Regions from separate parts of the Homo sapiens genome. Here region 1 is linked to region 2. A link means that fine-mapping ties the variant in region 2 to the expression of a gene that starts in the linked region. Tissue or cell type: whole blood. Region 2 holds a variant in brackets; the other region holds the start of a gene. All regions are shown on one strand. Distances are from middle to middle.

Region 1 (4,166 bases), 33 kb before region 2:
CAGCATGTTGGGGATCCTGCGGCTGATGGGGAACACACGTCCAGACTCTGGGCACTGCAGGGTGCCCTCCAACACATCTACCTCCAGCAGCACGTGGTGCATTGTCCTCACCATGGAGATTCCTAGCAAATACTCTAGGTATTTTAAATAGAAGAAATTTAATACAGGGAAATGATTACATATATAGTAGAAGAACTGAGATGTCAAACAGAAGAGTGAGGCAATCCACATTTTAGCAACTGCAGTAAGTGACCTCCAATGTCATGGCTGGAGGGTGCAAATGGTGAGAAGGCAGAAGCTAGAATCATGGTGGACCCCACCTGCAAGAGTCACAAAGAAGATGCATCCATTCAGGTCACAGAGAAGTAAATACTCTAGTGTCTACCTTCTACCTTCTTATTGCTCTCTAGTCTCCCATTTTATCTAGACTGCTGACAAGCATGCAGTGGAAGGTGAGCACCAGATCTGAGAGGAAACAGGCAGTGTCTGGTGGCACACTACACAAGAACTCTCACAGGCATCCACTAGGCTTGCTTGGTGACTCATTTAAGGAGTAACCCTATTTTATGTATCAGAGTAGTCTATGGTGTGATATAGCATATTGCTGCTTTTGATGTTTGGTTTCATTTGTTCCCTGTAGGCACCTAATCACTGTTTTTTAAATTCCCCAGGAGATTCTGGTATACCCAATCAGCTGAGAACCACTGAATAGTGGCTTTCAAAATTTTGAGCATCCAAATATTGTCTTCACAGAAAATCTTAATCTCTGAAGTCTACTGTAAAAACATAGAAAGGCAAGGCTGTTCTGCTTGAAGCGTAGCTTGGGAGCCTAGATTCCTCTCAAACCCAGGCCACTCCTGGGAACATGGTCTGGAGATTTGAATGTTCCCAAATCTAGTTTATCTCATTAGTCGATATTTATGCACATCCTCTGTGTCTCTCAGTGTTCTCTCATGTGTAGACATATGCCCCATTCCAAAGAGTGACTGTAGTGTAATGTGGCATTAAAGGAACCCTGGATAGACCTGTATTGGACCTTACATATTAGAGAGCTCTGCAGATAGCTCACAAATCTCCAAGTCGCTAGCTGTAAATTGAGTGATAATTGGTGTCAGGTTATTTTAGCACAGTTTGGGGATAAAATGGTGCATTAATCTCCCAGTTTGTGGCTTATTAAACTTTGAAATGGAATTATTTGAGACATAAAAGAGATAGCAATACTTTGCTGGATGTTCTCCATTAGTCGAGATTGTTACAGAGGAGAAATTTTTGCCACTGTTTATCAAATATTTTTTCCTCTAGTTAATCCATATCATTCCGGGAGCTTTGCCCAGGAAAAGGACGAATTACTTGCGTTCCTCCGATCTCTTTCAAGTTCTACTCCCGTACCTTTAAACTGTCACACGGAATCTTTGGTGACAGAGGAATAGAGGTGGGCAAGCAGGGCGTTTGGAAACCATACTGAAAACGAATTATCCATAAAGCACAGATTCACCAGCCTAGAAATGGCTCTGTCTGGATGGATTCCTTGAGATGTGTTTTATCTCCATTAAAAACACAACAACTTTCAAACTTTCACTGTGTCTCAAAATGATAGAGAAAAAAATTCAGCCTTTCAAGTATTCAAGAAAAGCTTGAAGAAATAAAAGAAACTCGCTGCTCTCTGGGCCACTTTAGGAGGCAGAGCGTTCCTGGAGAACTTCAGGATTCATTCGCAAGGGAACCCAAGGTGGGCATTCAAAGCCGATCCAAAGGATATTCTTCTTTTTAGAAAACAAAAGGAGCGCAAGGAGTAGGGGACTGAAGGTGCCCAAAGCTAGTGGGTCAGTGTCACTTTCTTCCTCCCTTTCGCCCCTTTCCTCCCGCTCCTTTCTCCCCTGTGGTCTCTGCTCAGCACCCCTTTCTCTCCAGCCCCGACTGCCCATCTTCGCCCCTACCCTCGCGCGTCGGGGCCGTGTCTACACCCACCCCAGGACCTGGTCCGTCCAGGCTCCTTCCCATCCTCACACCCGCGCCTTTCTCCCTGCGGCCCCGGCTCGCTGCTCCAGCTGCCCAGCTCTTCCCAGGACAGGGGATCCCGCCAAGGGGGCCGCCCCCGCCCCGGCCCTCCCCCGCCCGGCCGCACCATAAAGCGCCCGGCCGCTGCCGCGGAGCCCAGCAGCCAGCTCCCCAGCACCGCACGGCGGGGACGCGAGCGCGCCCCCGACGGCAGCCCGGACGCCGAGCACGGGTCACCTGCGGCGCCGGCCCGGGCGCCGACCGAGGTTCAACGCACGGCCCGGGGACCCCCAGGCGGGGCCAACGCCGCCGTCGCCCCCGGCCTCGCGGGGAGCAGGAAGAGCCAACATGCTGGCCCCGCGCGGAGCCGCCGTCCTCCTGCTGCACCTGGTCCTGCAGCGGTGGCTAGCGGCAGGCGCCCAGGCCACCCCCCAGGGTAAGTGGGTTCGGGTCGGGCCTGGGAGCGCCGGGCACCGGGTGCCCCATCTGCTGAGTGAGTGGAGGGACTTGCTCGGCCCTGTGCTCCTGTGGCCTTGCTCAGCCCCTCTCTGTCCCTCCCGGGCCCAATCAAAGCATATTGTGATTGGAGGTAGTGATTAGTCTAGAATTTTCCGAAATTCGATTATCCAATGATGAGAACAATTGCCTAAATAGTTGGGGGATGCAAAATTGTTTCAGACTATGCAAAGATGTGGGGTGGGGTTGCCTTCAAAACTTGCTACACGGTCCTAGACCTCTTAACATGTTAGGCTCTGGTGTAGGGTGAATTCCGGGTCCTGCACCCTGTGCCGGTTCCCTCCAGGCAGCCTTGCTCCCTAAATCCTTCCTCAGGCGGAGCGATGTATGCCCAGAGTCTGCTCTTGACATCCCTGAGAAAGACGCAGAATTACTCTACTTGCCCTGCCACCTGCATTTTCTGCTCTGACTTTGCTTGAACGACAAAAAGAAAGTTTATTTCAAGGATTGGCTTGATGTCTTAATTTCTGAGGTAAATAGGAAGGGCTGAGAAACTGGTCTTTTTCAATGAAATCAGTTCTTTGCAGCAAGATGGATGCAGCTGGAGGCCATTTTCCTAAGTGGATTAAGGCAGGAACAGAAAAGCAAATACCATGTTCTCACAAGCGGGAGCTAAGCAGTGGATAGATATGGACATAAAGATGGAAACAGTAGACACTGGGGACTCCAAAAGTAGGGGGGAAGGTTGGGAAAACTACCAATTGGGTACTACGTTCACTGGGTGATGTGTTCACTAGAAGCTCAAATCCCACCTTATGCAATGCACCCATGTAACAAACTTGCACATGTACCCTCTGAATCTATAATTTAAAAAGAAAAAAGAAAGAAATTGATCTTTTTCTATGAAACGGTAAAAATTCAACAAATAATGTGAAAAGATACTTGGACAATCCTCAAACCCCTTGGTGAAATGGGGTGAAATAGCCATTGGGTAGAAAGCAGTTAAACAGAATTTTTTGTAAAGACCAAAAGGAAGACATGATTTAAGCAAAGAAAGATCTTAGGGCTATAACTGGCCCTAACTGGTCAGGCGTGAGCTTCATCTGTTTGAACTTGGTGCCTGGGTTGATTTATTACTGACTGTGGAAGTAAAACTGGAAGAGACGCACAACTTGAAGTAAAAGTTGTTTTTCCTCTTGTAGCCAGAGCAAAGACTGCCTATGAGGGCGTTCTCAACTTCCCTGCCTCTCGCTGCTGGAATCACCCATTTAAACTGCATTTCGCCAAATAACTCATTTTCATTCCAGACCAGACAACCAGAACTGTGGTTTCAGGGGTTAGAGTACTGCTAACTTTTAGTTTGTGTTGAAGTATTTGAAATGCTGTAGTCCGTGCCCCATACTTCTAGGAAGGTAAAAAAGGAAGCTTTTAAACACTTCAAAAGTCTTATTGTGATGATATTTGGCAAGTTCAAATTTATAGGTATAATTTTTTTGTGTTATATACGTTCTTGACTTTTGAACATACAGCTTTATGGTGTGCCTTAGGTATGTCTCAGACATACCTGACCATTTTATGGAGATTTGAACTCGGCCTATACAACCTAAATTATCTGGGTAATTTAGTTGCTGTAGATGATCTGATTAAGTTAAGTTTCTGATAGATTCTTTTATTGCATTATCTAGTCTGCAATTATCAGGCTTAACAGGATA
Region 2 (4,166 bases):
ATATTAGGCTATTAGATAACTATTTATTGAGTAAATAATTATTACTCCTGTATTTTAAAATTGTGAAGAGCTTGGTAGTTTATATTAATAGTTCAGTATTTTACTGGTGACTACACAATCCCCAAATGGCATTATTTATTTTCATAAAACTTTCAATCATGGGGTCAGGAGATCGAGACCATCCTGGCTAACATGGTTAAACCCCGTCTCTACTAAAAATAGAAAACAAAATTAGCCGGGCCTGGTGGCGGGTGCCTGTAGTCCCAGCTACTCTGGAGGCTGAAGCAGGAGAATGACATGAACCCGGCAGGCGGAGCTTGCAGTGAGCCGAGATCGCACCACTGCACTCCAGCCTGGGCGACAGAGCAAGACTCCCTCTCAAAAAAAAAAAAAAAAAAAAACTTTTCAAAACTTTTCATTGTATTAAATTAAAGTGCTTAGCACTTAGGGATGCCTATAACTTAAGTATTCAGATATGGGTTTTATTTCTGAAAGTTCCTGTCAAACTGTGTCCAAGATGAGAGATGTACCAGAGTTGACTATCAAGAAAAGAACTACTGATTACGTGTATGACTATTTGAAAGTTATCCAGCCTCTAGGTTCCTTGTTTCCTTGTAAGTAAAAACACTTTACATTTATCAAGTCACTTATTTTAATCCTCACAACAACCTCATAAACAGGGATTATTATTATCCCCATTTTACAATTGAAGAAACTGAGGGACAGAAATATTACATCATTAAGTCCAGGCATGGTGGAGCATGCCTATAGTCCCAGCTCCTCAGGAGGCTGAGGCCGAAGGATCATTTGGGTACAAGAGTAGTTTGAGGCTACAGTGAGCTGTGATCGCCACTGCACTCTAACCTGGGTGACAGAGGGAGACCCTGTCTCCAAAAAGAAAAAAAAGAAATGTTACGTATTTAGACTAAGGTCACACATCTTCCAGGTTGGCTACAGAGCCTGAGTTCTTCTCCGCAATGCTATATTGCTTAGGAATAGATGGGGATTTATTGCTTCTCAGCTTTTACCAGGACAAAGTAGTCTGCAAATAGATTTGCGAGATCTTGGTGTAAAGGTAATAACTGAGCCACCTAGAGAGAAGGAAAGTAGACAGTAAATAGAACTCCAGGAAACCCCAAAAACGAAGGACTAGGCCAAGGAAAAAGAGCAGAAGCCAGAAAAAGGAGCGAACTGATAGCACAGCCAGGGAGGCTGAAAGATCGAGACAAGTCATTGGAAAGCATGCATTGGATTTGGCAACTAAGAGGTTGTGAGTGACTTAAATCATTAAACAATATATATACTTCAAATGGATGTCTTTTACGACCTGTAAATGTTATGCCAATAAAACTGCATAAGATGAAAAAGATCTAATGTACAGCATGGTGACTGTAGTTAATAATACTATATTATATATATGAAATCTGCTAAGAGAGCAGATCTTAAGTGTTCTCACTGAAAAAGAAAAAAAGGAAGGTAACTATGTCAGTTGATGGATGTGTTACTTAACTGACTGTGGTAATCATTTCACAATGTATACGTATATCACATCATCACACTGCACACTTTAAATATATTCAGTTTTGTCAATTATACCTCAATAAAGATGAAAATTTTAATTTTCATTTTTTAAACATATTGTATAATATTTATTACATATATAGTGTGCAGTGTGATAATATATATTATATATATAAAAGCTAAAAAAACCTGGCCCCTGAAGTGTCATTGCAGCGGAGCTGACAGCTCATTTGTCAGTTTCTCAGCCTACCTCATCAGAAATTCTCAATGCAGGCCACCAGCATTTCTCTGTGCACCCATTCCTTTGTCATTCCATTGTAAAAGAGCCAAAGGAACAGCAATAAGAAAAATTAACTTGCTTTTTAAGCAGATCATCTCCCTGTCCCCAGAGTAAACTTCTCACACCACCTCCCAGGACTTCACTGGAACTTTTGACCTGTCCCCTATGCCCTCCACGGTGGCGCGGGCAACTCAGTGTCATTGGTTCACAGTCCAGCCTTCTTCCTTCACTTCTATTCCTTCTTTGTCTGAGTGGCCGGACGCAGCCTCCAGTCTGATGGTGTTTTCATCAACATTCACATGATCTTACATGTAAGCAAAGAAGAAGGCATGGATCTGATGCCTGATTCCTGCCAGCAATGAGTACCTGTGAAAATATACACAATAACTGTACCTTTGCTCAAACTGTACCTTTGCCCACAGCTTTCAGCTCATCACCTGATCTTTGTTCCTTGCAGGGATCTTACCGCTGTGGGCCTTGTAAGCCGGGGTATACTGGTGATCAGATAAGGGGATGCAAAG[C/T]GGAAAGAAACTGCAGAAACCCAGAGCTGAACCCTTGCAGTGTGAATGCCCAGTGCATTGAAGAGAGGCAGGGGGATGTGACATGTGTGGTAAGTTGTTTTTTGACTTCCTCTATCATTTTTCCTCTTCCATTTTTAACACCACCTCTCTCCAGTTTCTATGTGCTTCAGGGTAAAAGTACTCCAAAATGAAAGCATTGCAATTAAATGAGCATGGAGTGTAATAGGAACAGGGTCCACCGAGTTTGTGGGGAGCAGCCTGACATCCATCTAACCATCAGCTGCCTTTTCTCTCCCTCTTGGCTGGGGGGCAACCCTGTCCACTTGGGTACCTGGATGCCAGAGCCTCCGGTGAAGCCCCAGCTCCCAAGCACCTTCTATGGAAAGGCCCAGAAGCCAGCAGCAGGGAGGTGAAGGAACATTCTTCTCCCCTTTCCTTCTTCTGCCCCATCTACCTGCCTGTATAATGACAACATACCTGCTGTCATCTCTAACTGTCCTCATCCTTACAACTTCCAGAGTCTGTCTGCCTTGACGCTCCTGTTGGGGGTGGGCCATCGTGTAGAGGTGGGGACTGTCATAGTCCCTCCGGGAGAAACCTTCCGTCTTTGGCAGGTGACTGGCAGGGCCAGACGGCGCCATGCTGTATGTCTACCTCCACTCCAATCAGGGACAGCTCCATGAATGGTCACGCTTCCTGTGCATTCTCCAGCCACGGAGCTGGTCTGGGGAGGGGAGGCTGGGAAGAGAGTAGAGCAGTCACAGCAGGGCCTGACATGGGTCCCATGCTGAGCTTGTAGTGGGCCCTATGTGAAGGAGAGGGCATGCTCCTGCCATCCATTCCCAAATCCAAGGATCCAGAGTCCTCAGCCTGCCATCCATTCCCAAATCCAAGGATCCAGAGTCCTCAGCCTGCCATCCATTCCCAAGTCCAAGGATCCAGAGTCCTCAGCCTGCCATCCATTCCCAAATCCAAGGATCCAAAGTCCTGGGGATCCTAGGCACTGAAAAATCAGCAGACTTCAGCTGCCCCCCTCCTCTGCACTTCCTGGGATGCCAGGCCCTCGGCCGGTGGCCCGTCAGACTCTGGGGTCACTGGTTCACAGTGATCACCCCTGAGTAGCAAGATGGATTCTCGGAGCCCTTTTCCATCTTTATCTCAAAGTTATGCTTCTTTATCTTTATGCATACACAATTTTCCACAATGAGCCTACCACTTTTCAAATAGGAAAAATAAGAGTCAAAAATGAGTTAATAAATAAATATAATGAAGTCAGCCCTCCTTGGCAATACAGATATTCTGTAACAAGGTCAGATGGAAGAATGTGGTGTATCAGAGGGGGAATAACCCCAGCAATTTCCTGAATTCCTCATGGTTGGGCTTGTTTATTACCAAAAAGCAGTCATTGAGAAACAAGTGTATATCTCTGTTGAAATCCCCATTTTCTGTGAACAAATTGACAACTCCCCTGGGATGATGGGTGATGGGGCTCTTAATATGTTTTTGAATTTGTAATAAGGCACAACGACAGATGGTAAAGGATTAATAAACTTGGCGTGACTACTAAAATAATTGAATCTGCCAGAAAATAGCTCATTAAAAATGTATTTGTTCCTAGAGGACATTTTTTCCTCATTAAAGTGAGTCAAGGATCAGCCTCGTGGATCAGCCTTCCAGGCCTTCCAAAGGCCCTGCTGGGGCAAGTGAGCAGGAACCAGGAGCCCGGGAGGGTCTCTCTGGAGTTCTGCCTCCTAAATCCTGGTTGCAGAGGGAGAGCACAGATGATTGAGAATAAGCAGGCTGTGGCTGAGGAAGTCACTGGTCTGAAAGCTTTTGGGTGGTGA

The links. PIP is the estimated chance that this variant, and not a neighbour inherited with it, causes the effect.
Region 1: it holds the start of THBS4, and the variant in region 2 is fine-mapped to the expression of THBS4 in whole blood (TOPMed, PIP above 0.99).

The regions. Positions count from the first base shown.
Region 1 is chr5:80,033,192-80,037,357 of GRCh38, forward strand. It overlaps THBS4 (thrombospondin 4), which reads left to right and starts at 2,157. Exons shown (of 22, transcript NM_003248.6): 1 at 2,157-2,434. The coding sequence starts at 2,347. It also overlaps the pseudogene TRMT112P2.
Region 2 is chr5:80,065,715-80,069,880 of GRCh38, forward strand. It overlaps THBS4 (thrombospondin 4), which reads left to right. Exons shown (of 22, transcript NM_003248.6): 10 at 2,259-2,411. It overlaps THBS4-AS1 (THBS4 antisense RNA 1), which reads right to left. Exons shown (of 8, transcript NR_109930.1): 7 at 2,800-3,060; 8 at 635-2,167. Among named protein-coding and RNA genes, the nearest start is that of THBS4-AS1, 16 kb to the right of the region's middle. The variant C/T (reference allele first, on the strand shown) is at 2,323.